3 linked regions of the Homo sapiens genome follow. The protein of the gene in region 1 purifies or fractionates together with the protein of each later gene. This does not show direct contact. Each region holds a gene or a part of one and is shown on either strand. Other genes may lie near its edges. The genes, in order: ELFN1, OXSM and SIGLECL1.

Region 1 (3,750 bases):
TGGTGGGGACCGTGGTAGGGAGGTGGAGGAGCAGCAGCCTCTCCCTGGCCCAGGTGTGGGGAGCCTGCCTCCAAAGACACTTTGAAAAATCAGTGCTTTCCAGTGGCAGTCCTGGGGCATGGTGGGGAAGGGACGCCGCCCTCCCTCCCCTCCTCTGGTCCTGGGTGCAGGTGCCCACCACATCCCTGCACCCTTACCCCAGACTTACCAGGCCTCAGGAGTGTGGCTCTGGTTCAGGTGCCCACTGGCTTTTCTGGGAGTCGGGAGCTGCCTGCCGAGCCTGCTGTATCATCCTGAATTATACGCACACAGCAGTCCTGCTGCGGCCGAGGAGGAGGGGGCTGCACAGCTGGCTGTAGGACAGGGGGAGGGGCATGGCCCCCAATCTCTGACTTGGAGACCCCCAGGTCTTCTGCCCACTAGGGGTGGGGATCAGAACTCCCTGACCACCGTATGCCCAGGAAAATGAGGGACCCAAGTGCTGGGGTCCTGGCTGGGCTCCAAACCCCCTCAAATCCAGGTGAGGGGGTGACCCCCTCCCACACACGGCCCCCTGGAGTTTGTCCCCCTGCTTTGGTGGAGTGGGGCGCAAACCTGGGCTGGGACCTGTAAGCCAGTCTTCTCAATGCTTGTTCAATTAAAAGGTGGCAGGGGCAGGGACCCAGGGGGCAGGAGGCCAGGGGGCCAGCCAGGCAGAGAAGAGGAGCATGTTGATGCTTTTCAAGCAACCTATGCCCAACCCAATGGGGTTTCCCCCAAGGCTGGGTGCAAGCTGGACCTCTTTGGAGGCTGGGGGCCTCTCTAGGGGGCAGCCCCTGAGAGAGGCAATATGGGGAGATTTGCCATTTACATCTGCTCCTGGCTCCCGGTCCCTCCACAGCTTCTGTCCCCAGGCTCTCCGCACAGCCCTTAGCCCAATCGAGGGAATGAGCGGCAGAGGCAGCCAGCCCAAGCCAGGGTCCAAAGAGGCCCCACTCCGGGTGTGCAGGAAGGGAAAGTGCTGGCACGGAGGCTTTTTGAGGACGTGCACACCTGGCTCGGCCGGCCTCGACCCTTTCTGCTAAGCCTTCGTTTTTTTCAGAAGGCATGATCATCCTAGCCCCATTTCACAGGTGTGGAAACTGAGGCTCTGAGATTCACCTGCCCCAAGGTCACACAGCTGAGACCTGGAAAAGCCGGATTTTCATCTCAGAGGGTGTCGTTTTTATGGGGGGGGGGGCGGTGTGCGGTACGGCAGGCAGTGCCCCCCGCCCCACCCTCAGCATCAAGCAGGTGACCTGCAGGTTTCAAAGGATGGAAATGGGGGCGCTTGTCTTTAGAGGCAGGTTGGGGCACGGAGGCTTGGCAGCCTCCTCCCAGCCCCCAGAGGGACGAGGACGAGGATGGACTCCAGGTGGGGCGAGGGGTGGAAAGCACCCAGTAAGTTCAGTTCGGAGCGAAGCCCCCCACCCCACCCCCCCGCCAGTGGTTGGACTCAGGGGCTGGGACCGAGGAATGTGACCCCTCCCCGTGCGTGACTGGACGGTCCCCGCGCGGAGCGAGGAGGCTCGCAGCGTCGGGGGGAGGGCGGCCCAGCAGGGAGGGCGATGCGAGCCTGGGGAGGGGTCAGCGACTCGGCCAGGAGGTGAGGACAGCCCCCTAATTTCCGGGAAGGGAAGGGCAGGGGGCCGCGTCTGGGGGGCGCCGGGCAGGGTGCGGACGGCGAAGGGGGACGGAAGGGAGAGAGGCGCTGGGGAAGGGACCTCTCGGAGGCACGGGGCAGCGTGCGGGCTGCGGCAGCGACCCCGACCCGGGCCCCCGGGCTTTGTCGGGCTGAGCCTGCGCCCGCTCCGCCGCCGCCAAGTTCCTCCAACTTTGCCCGCTGCGCTCGGATCGCGCGCCAGGCCTGGGGGCGCAGCAGGGGCTGGGGGCGCACGCTGCGCACTCGGGGACGCCCGGGGTTCGAGGTGGCGGGGGGCTTGGCCGCGCCGCTCCCCGGGGGTGGTCCGGGTCCCAAGTCCCCCAGGTTCAGCGCCCGGCCGCGCTCGCCGCTTACCTGCCCGCCCGGCCTCGGTTCCGGGGCTGCGCCCGCAGCCGCCGCCGTCCTTCAAGCTCTAACTTCGCTCCCGGGATTGAAATTCCTCCCCAGCTTCGCCCATCGATCTGCGCGCGCGGCCCCGCCCCTCGCCGCGCGGCCGGGGGGGAATTCAAGCTCGCCCTGCCCCCTCCCGCCCCCCTTCCCTCCCTCCCTCCCTCCTTCTCTCCCTCCCTCGCTCCCTCGCCCGCCTGCGCGCTCCCTTCCACCCCCTCTTCCTCCGCCGCGAGTCCGGCTCGGAGCCTCTGGCCCTCCCCTTCTCTCCCTGGCCTCCCGAGCCCCCTGCTCTCCTCGGCTCCCCGCGGCAACCCGCTCCTTCCCTCTCCCGGCGACGCGCAGGGGCTGGGGAAGGAGGGGAGGTCCTAGAAAGCGCAGGGGGCGTCCTCGCGGTCCGTCCCCGGCCCTCCCCGCCCACATCTAAAAGGTGGAGGGGGTGGGTGGGTGGGTGGGGGGAGTGGGGGCGACAGCTGTTGGCTGAACAAGCTACCCGCGACTCCCACCACCTCAAGCAAAGCCAAGGCGTTCTCAGGTCCTCCCGTCGGTCCGCCCCTTATCCGGGAGGGCAGGGACCTAGGGGCGGAGAACGCAGGGCGCAGGCCGGGCCTCCTCTGCCCAGCCCTGGCCCCGCTTCCTTCCTTCATTCACCCCAACCTCTGTGAGGACTTCAGGGGGTTCTGGAGCACTCTTCGGCTCAGTTTCACCCTGACAACCTGCCTGTGCGGAAGCCCCCGTCCGCATGTTACAGGAAGGGAAACTGAGTCAAGAGAGGCCCAGAATCTGGCCCTACACAGCGCGTCGAAGGCAGAGCCCCAGGGGCAGCCTGGACCCCCGGCAGGAGCCTCGGGACTCCACGCTCGGGCCGGGCAGGCCCCGGCGGTGCCTGGACAAGCCCGCGTTCGCAGAACGGCCGGCGCCTGGGGACCCTCTCCAGTCCCCGCGCAGCCCGCGCGTCCCCGCCGGCGCCCCCTCCCCGCTTCCTGTCCCCCGCCCGCCTCTGGTTCCCGGCCTCAGTACCCCCGGCACGCTCTCCGCTCGCCGCCAGCAGCTGGGCAATTCAACGAGCATACAAAAGAGTTGACTCAATTCAAAGGCAGCAAATCAAGATAAATCCTATAGTGTGTGGGGACCGGAGAGGGAATGTGAATGAACGCCCACGACGCCGTTCAGTCCTGTATGGACCGGCCTAGCCCGGCTGCAGGGCCTGACACGCCCGGGTCCTAGGGTTCTCCAGGAGCCAGAATCGGAGAGTGGGCTCTGAGCTGCCTTGGCTCCCAGGCCCCCAGCACTGGCCCGAATTTAGTAATTTAGAGCTTGTGGCCTCCTTCGGCTGGCTGGGTGGGGCTCCCGTGATAGGGGTGCAGAGCCTTGAAGGGGAGTGCTAGGACGAAAGCCAGTGCGCCCCCACGATTTCATGCAAATACTGGGGGGCAGGGGCCCTGGAAACCCAGCACAGCCCCAGGGGCCGGCAGGAAGGGCACCGGTGGTTTGGAACACCTAAGCTGTGGCCTTTCTCCCTCTGCCCCGACCTGGACCACGGTCAGAGCCAGGCCGCAGGCCAAGAGCAGGTCCTTGTTTACCCACCAGATAGATACTGCAAGCCTGGGATGTGCCAGGCCTGGGCCTGTGGAACGAGGCCGGCGGTGAGCGGGGCACCCTCTCCTCCCTGCCTGTCTGTG
Region 2 (3,750 bases), on another chromosome or scaffold:
AATGCAATTTTTGTAAGTATGTTCAAATGCTTTGAAATACTTCAAATGTCTTAAGCAAAGAACTAAACAATCTTGTTTAGTCTAAAAAAGAAAAACAACAGAGATACTGTACACCAAGGCCAGACACTACAACTTCCCTAATTTGGGATTCCCAATAAAGTGTCTTATTTGAAGAAATATTTCGAAGGAAATAACCCATCTTTACCTTAAGGCACCTTCTCCTTCAGGATCAGGGGCAGTTATGTGACCAGCATCACCTGAGAGTCCATAGCCCAAAACTTCTGCATAGATCCGGGCTCTTCTTTGAACAGCATGTTCATATTCTTCCAGCACCAGCACAGCTGCACCTTCTCCCATTACAAAACCATCTCTCTTTGGATGAAATGGTCGACATGCCAACTTGGGATCTGAGTTTGTGCTCAGAGCCCGGGCTCTGGAAAACCCAGCAAGAGATAAAGGGCTAATACAAGAATCTGTACCTCCAGCCACCATCACATCAGCATCACCATGGGCTATAAATCTAAATGAGTCTCCCACAGCATGAGCTCCTGTGGTACAGGCTGTGGATACTGCATGATTTGGGCCCTTGAGTTTATATCGAATGCTGACCTGGCCTGCTGCCATATTGACCAGAATCTTAGGGACAAAAAATGGGCTAACTTTATTGTAACCTTTTGTCTGAAAATTCAAAGCAGTTTCAGAAACAACTTCAAGAGGAATCATTCCCATGCCAATTGCAACACCAGTAGCCACTTGATCAGCTTCTGACTGAGGATGCCAGCCAGAATCCTTCATGGCTAATTCTGCAGCCCCAATGGCCATGATGGTGGGAGAAGACATGGACTTGATATCTGATTTGGACACAAAGTTTTGTTCATTGAACTGACCTTCATCACTACCTCTTGGCACATAAGCAGCAACACTGCAAGGGATACTCTTATACTCTTCACCAACCAGTGAAACAATTCCACTCTCTCCTCCGATAAGACGATCCCAAACCAGGTGAGTTCCAACACCAAGAGGAGTCACTAAGCCAATGCCTGTAATGACAACTCGCCTATGCAATCTGGATATTGGCACAGTTCCGAAAAACTTCCTTTTACTTCTTAACTGTTGGCATAATCTTGAACATAGAAGACGAGTGCTTGTAATTTTCAGGAAATTTTGCAGGCAGTTGGACATGATTAAGATTCAGATGATCAGAAACACATTCCTGTAAAAGACCACAACACACCTAGGAGGTATTCTTTTAAATAGCTTAAGGGCCTAAGGAAAAACATCCAAGGTGTTCCTTTGGGTGCTTGATATGAGCTGCTAATGAACACAGGGAAAATGTTACATACTTTCAATTTATACCTTAACATCAAACTATCTGTTTAAACTTACCTTCTTTTTTAGACCTTAAGTGCCGTCAGACATTTGAAGACAAATAAATGAATTGATGATTCATTCGAGTCACCAAAACAGTAATTCAATGAAAAATATAAAGGCACCTCCAGCCTGATTTGAGCTGCAGGAAGCATCCTTTGTCAGGATTACTGATAACTTCTTCTAAATAGCATTTCTGGTGTCAGTGGCACAGAAAACACATTTCAGGGCATATTCTTTTAAGTAAGTAAGTGGGCTTTATCAATCTTCAGTACTTAAGGATAACCAGCCTTTTCAAAACGCTACCCAGGGCCAAGAGCCCTAGACTGAGCGTCTGGATACATGGGTTGGCAATACACTCTGTGACCAAGCTTGCGATGGGGGAAGGGGACAAGTCTTTCCACTCCTCTAAACTTCTCCAATTGAATCATTGGTGGAAGGAGGGGTTACGACTAGTGGATCACTTCAAGGGTACTACGAAGGCCAGGGGCGGGAGTAAAAGAGTGTAGCCATTCCCTGTATCGCCTCTCAGGCACCACCACACATGTACACAGCCCGAAGAAGCATGGCGAGAGAAAAAGAAATCAGGCCCCAGGTCCTCGGACTCCCCTCTCGAAATTCAACCCCGACTTGATTTGAATGTAAAGGAGGAAAGGAGGGGCGAAGGAGGAGGGTAGCCAGCGATACCTGTAACGGGGCTACCCCGGACACTTCTCCACAGTCGGGGGCGATGACGCTCTCGAGCGCACGCGCACACGCACGTACGCTCATGCGCGCTCGCACGTACGCTCATGCGCTTTCCCACGCACGCGTCCCGTTCGACTCTCTTTCCGCCGGTTGACTTTAAGCCGCGTCACCTTGGCTGAGGTCAGACCGTGGGAGGCGGCTGGGTAGCTGTTTGCGTGAGCAGAGACGCCCCTCTCGGAACCTCAGTGACTCGCCGATAATCGAGGACCTGCCAATAACGCGATGAGGTAGCATTTTCACCCATCAAAAAGGCATTTTTCTTTGGCAGTGATAATGCCCAAATATTCCCTTTTGTCGGAGAAGGGACACCATCGTATTCTACTGGAATTGTAAGAAAGAATTAAGGAAATTCTCTGCAGTTTCAAAGTTATTGCTATAGCTCGCAACGTTATTAGTAATTGTGAGTAAAGTGGAATTAACCAAAATGGCCAACATCAGGAAATTTGTTGTGTATCTTGTGGTACATCCAAATGCCATGCAGCCGTTTAAAATAATTCTGCAGGTGAATATTTATTAATGAGATGTTGCGACTATTTGTTAGGAGACATAGTTACAAAACAGTATATATCCGTTTTTTCAAAAATAATTCTTTAAAGGTCTGCAAGATGTATACTGATTGTGATCTTTCCCTCCTTATTTTTGCTTAGCTTTATTTAATAAAGCTTTTCTACAATAAACAAATGTTTTTGTAATAAAGTTTTTACTTTTTAAAAGTTGTCACCAGGCTGTTCTGCCTATGGAGTAGTCATTCTTTGTTCCTTTACTTTCCTAATAAACTTCCTTTCACTTAAAAAAAAATTATCACCAGATTTGAGACAGTGCTCAAAAATTGTCTCCATTGTCACAATGGAGACATTTGTTTCTAAGTGTGAAAAATTCATTAACTGTTTGCTTAGAGCTGACTGCAAACCGATAAAGGGAAAATATAACATGAAAATGTAAAAAAGCAAGAAGTCGACAAGATGGTATTCATCGAACATCTGTTTTTCACATGCTATCCCAGGCGTGAGTTTTGTCCTTGCTCTTCTTTAGAAAAATGGTTGAGCATAGAATCTTCATCTGGACCTTCTAGTCATATTTATGGTTTTTTCTGGGCAATGCCTCTTGAAGCCATTGTTTCCAAGTAGAGTGCTCTGCATTCTTTCCTACCCCTACAGAAGAATGTGAGTCAAGCTTAGCTTTCCAGGTTGGTCCTGGATTTAAATGAGTTTGGAAATCTATTTTGTTTAAAATAATTCAGCAAAGCTCAGTTTGACCTTCGTCCCAGGCCTAACCAGTCACCTCTAGTTGATCCTCATTCAGTGACAAAGTAGAGTTTCTTGAAGAATTAAAACAAACACATGTGGTTATAAAGTAACACTTGATGAGTAAGTACCTAAACTTGATCTCTTTTCATTGCTGTCTTTAAAATAATAGTGTGAAAATACCTACAATATTTTCTCTGAAGCTGAACTCATAAGAAACATACAGTTTTAATGTGCTATTTCTTTTGTAATATCACAAAATCGTCTTGGCTAAGAGGTGACAAAATCTTTCAGAAAAATAAAAAGACCATCATTTTTGTATCTACCTCTTATCACCTTTTCTTTGATCTGGAAAAGGGTGGGAAATTTTATGATATTTAATGGCTTTACA
Region 3 (3,650 bases), on another chromosome or scaffold:
ACCAAAGATAGAATGGCATATCTCCTAATGATAAGCTGACATTAACAGGAATAAAGTATATATTTAAAATTTGTGTTTGCCTACTAACATAGTCCAAAAATATATAAAGCAAAAAATCTACAAAAATAAAAGGAGAAACAGACATCCACAATAGTAGTGTGACATTTTAATCACTGTTCTCTCAGAAACTGACAGAACAAACAGACTATTGGAATATATAAAGATTTCAACAACTTGATCAGCAAATTTGACCAAAAATATATAGAGAATACTGCAATCAATAACTGCAGAATACAATTTCTTTGTAAGCACACAGAGAACGTTTACAGAAATTGGCCACAGCTGGATCATAAGACAAATCTTAATAAAATTTCCATGAAAATATTTAAAATCTCATTAATAACCAGCAAAATGCCTGTTAAAACCATCAGATACCAGTACATATCCAAGACAATATATCAAGTCTTGGTGAGAATGTGGTACTCAACTTTCACACACTATTGGTGGAAATATAAATCAGGGCAACAAAGTTATTTATCAAAGCAGAAGATACACATACTCTATGACCCTCAATTCCACTCCCAGATGTATACTTTATAGAAATGTTTGTGCATATGTACGCCACAAAGGAATGCAAAAATGTTTACAGTGGTATTATTTAAAAATAGCTAAAAAGGTAAACAATCCAAATGCCAGTAAACAGAGAATTTTAAAAAATGAGATACTACACAGCAACAAAAACCTATGAGCTAATGCTAGATGCAACAACATGGACCATTCTTACAAATAAAATATTGAATGAACAAAGCCAGACACAAATAAGTAATAATGTATGAGCATTTCTTTAAAATTTGAAAAAAACCGGGCAAAATCAAGTGTTTAAGAACGCACACACAAGTAGTAAAAATCCTTTAAAAGTTGCCAAGAAATGTCCAGCATAAAAGGTAGGATATTAATTGCCTTTTTGGGAGGAAGAGGTCTGTTTCTCTGTTTATTTTATCATTTGTAGGGGGTATGAACAGGTCTTTTGAGATACTGGCTATAGTGAATTCCATAAGGCTGTACCCTATATAGGCATCCTTTTAATAGTACAGTTTCCCATTGCCCATCTGCCTGACCATATGGCCAGGCCATTGGCCACTGCCCATGAATTGGTAAAAACCCAAATGTGGAGGCAGTTCAGCCCACTGAAGTGACTTGTTTTTGCCTTCCTCAGTATGAGTGCCAGTCTTCCAAACAGGATGTTATTAATTCACTTTGGAATTGCCATCCATAAATCAAACCGCTCTTAGTTGGTCAATCAAGAGCTATTAATAGACATCATTCAAGTAATAATAGGATCTCGCAGCTCTTCAGTAGGGAAAAAGCCACCTGTTCATAAATATAACGAGGACCTCCTTGCATTTCCCTGGTAGCATGTTCCTGTATAAACAATTTCCATTTTATTACGAGACTCTTTTGGGCATGGCCTTCCTTACTACAGTGTTTTTCCAACATGACAAACACATCATGAGGATTTCAGGTGTCAGGATTATTATATCCTTCAATGATGGGGCAGACTCAAAGCCCAATAGGCAGCTAGTTGTCTCTCCATTGGAAATTTTCTGGCCCCAAATCCCAGCATTCACCACTGGGTGGTGCTCACTGGCCTTAGCTCCAGTCTGCCTAAATAAAGCAAACGTTAAGCTTCTAACATGTTTTGTCCACCAGATATCCTGTACTGTTTCAAATTAACAATTAGTGTGGGCTTGGGCAATCTTATTGGTTCCTATTTAGCATATTCAATCAATATTGGTTGAAGGGAAGATTTACATGCCTTCTGTTTCATAATAGTACGTAGGGGAACTCTTCCATAGTTGGACACAATATCTTTCCTCATAATACATTTAGGTAAATACATTCACATAACATATTTACATAGTCTGTCCAAACATTCCAATTTTCATCCAAAGTTTCGCCTGAATCTCATCCACTTTGTAATCCTATGTCTTCGCAATCTAACCATAGATGCTATTAGAATTTCACCAACCTTTTGGAATGCAGGTATAAGACTCCCACATGAGTCCCAGAAATATCTCTTATCCATCCCCTGACTATTTTACTACTAATATGCATATGACTTTGGGTCTTCAGTTAGGGGTCAGGCCAAGCAACCCAGGCCCTTTTGTCATTTATCTTGATTAGATCACATGTTCGTCCCCTCAGGAGATCTGAGGTCAGATTTCCCATTGTCATGTTTGCCTTCTGGCTTCTAAAATTCCTCCAAACTAGGGTAAATATAGCAGACTTGATGGGGGACCTTCAACACTGGAGGGCAAGTCTAGGTTCTCACTGCTCCACCTAATTTCTAAGAGTGCTCCACTGAGACCTTTGTTTAGACTCCCTCAATGTCCACTTAACTCATCTCATTTCTTAATAACTGTTTATAAAGATTTCCACCCTCTTGGAAATGTTCGTCTTTTCTCACTCTCTGGTGAACCACTCTAATTTTCTTTGCCATCTGTCATTTCAGCCTAACTTTTCCCTTTAGCCACAGCCCTGAGGCTAGCAGCTGTAGCTCAGGCTGGCCAGAGCCCAAGATTGGGCCAGCATCAGGATCCGCCTCAGCCACTTTCATTTTAACGATTACAGATAAAAATAGCCAAGGGACTGCCTATTTAGTTTGTTTCCTTATGCATCCAGTGGGTCAGCTCCTTGGGGGTTGGATCCATTGTATTGAAAAAGCAATGGTAACTTTTACCTCCTGTAACTGTTTGCAGAACAGCTGCATTTCTATACGCACAGGTGACCGCAGGACAGCCCAGGAATCAAAGGCTTATCATCTTGACTTCACATCCTTCCTCTTTTCAAACCATATGTTTCAGTGAGTCAGGGCTGTTCTAGTGAATCCCATTTCTGATACAACTGAAAAGTTAGGGAATGGTCCACAAGATCCCCTCATTTCTGACACCAACTGAAGATATCAAGGATCCCTGATTACCCTCATTTCTCAAATCATTTGCAAGGTTTTGGAACCCCAAAACTACCCTTAGGTTTGGTAATTCACTAGAAGTACTCACAGAATTCACTGAAAGCTGTTATACTCGTGATTACTGTTTACTACAACTAAAGGATAGAGATTAAAATCAGCCAAGGGAAGACATACAGGGCAGAGGCCAGAAGTTCCCCACACAAAGCTTCTAGTTATCCTCTCCCTGTGGAGTCATGGACAGCATAACTTAGCTTTCCTGGTGATAATGTGTGACAATATGCATAGTACTGTCAACTAAAGAAGCTCACCCAAGCCTTGTGTCCAGTGTTTTTATTGGGCCTCCATCGTGTAACATGGTGACTTCCCTCATGGTGGATCTTAGCATCCAGCTCCTCCTGAAGTTGAGCTGATACCATTTGATCCAAAGCCCCTATTCTAAATCACATTGTTAGACTATCTGGTATTGCTTCCACTCTAAATCACATTGTTAACATTATCTGGTGTGGCCAGCCCTCATCCTAAATCACATTTCTAGAATATTCAGTGTGATGCAAGGTCCCTGGGCAAACAAAGACACCCCTATGAGGTGTGACATTCTAAGAGCTAGGGAGTGTCTTCCAGAAGCCAAGGGCAAAGGCCAGACTTCTCTTCAGGCAAGGTTAAGTTCCTTAGTACACAG

Evidence for each region.
Region 2: the proteins of ELFN1 (region 1) and OXSM fractionate together in Homo sapiens (co-fractionation; one large-scale study listed by BioGRID). This does not show direct contact.
Region 3: the proteins of ELFN1 (region 1) and SIGLECL1 purify together in Homo sapiens (co-immunoprecipitation; one large-scale study listed by IntAct). This does not show direct contact.

Annotation. Positions count from the first base shown.
Region 1 is NC_000007.14:1,668,640-1,672,389, reverse strand, and holds the start of ELFN1 (protein ELFN1 precursor), read right to left. Parts: upstream 2,114-3,750; 5' UTR 2,036-2,113; exon of another isoform or gene 209-2,035; intron 1-208. UniProt on the Homo sapiens protein: Postsynaptic protein that regulates circuit dynamics in the central nervous system by modulating the temporal dynamics of interneuron recruitment.
Region 2 is NC_000003.12:25,788,453-25,792,202, reverse strand, and holds the start of OXSM (3-oxoacyl-[acyl-carrier-protein] synthase, mitochondrial isoform 1 precursor), read right to left. Parts: upstream 2,114-3,750; 5' UTR 2,056-2,113; exon of another isoform or gene 1,387-2,055; intron 1,214-1,386; 5' UTR 1,183-1,213; coding exon 206-1,182; intron 1-205. UniProt on the Homo sapiens protein: May play a role in the biosynthesis of lipoic acid as well as longer chain fatty acids required for optimal mitochondrial function.
Region 3 is NC_000019.10:51,257,530-51,261,179, reverse strand, and holds part of SIGLECL1 (SIGLEC family-like protein 1), read right to left. Parts: intron 3,439-3,650; exon of another isoform or gene 3,280-3,438; intron 1-3,279.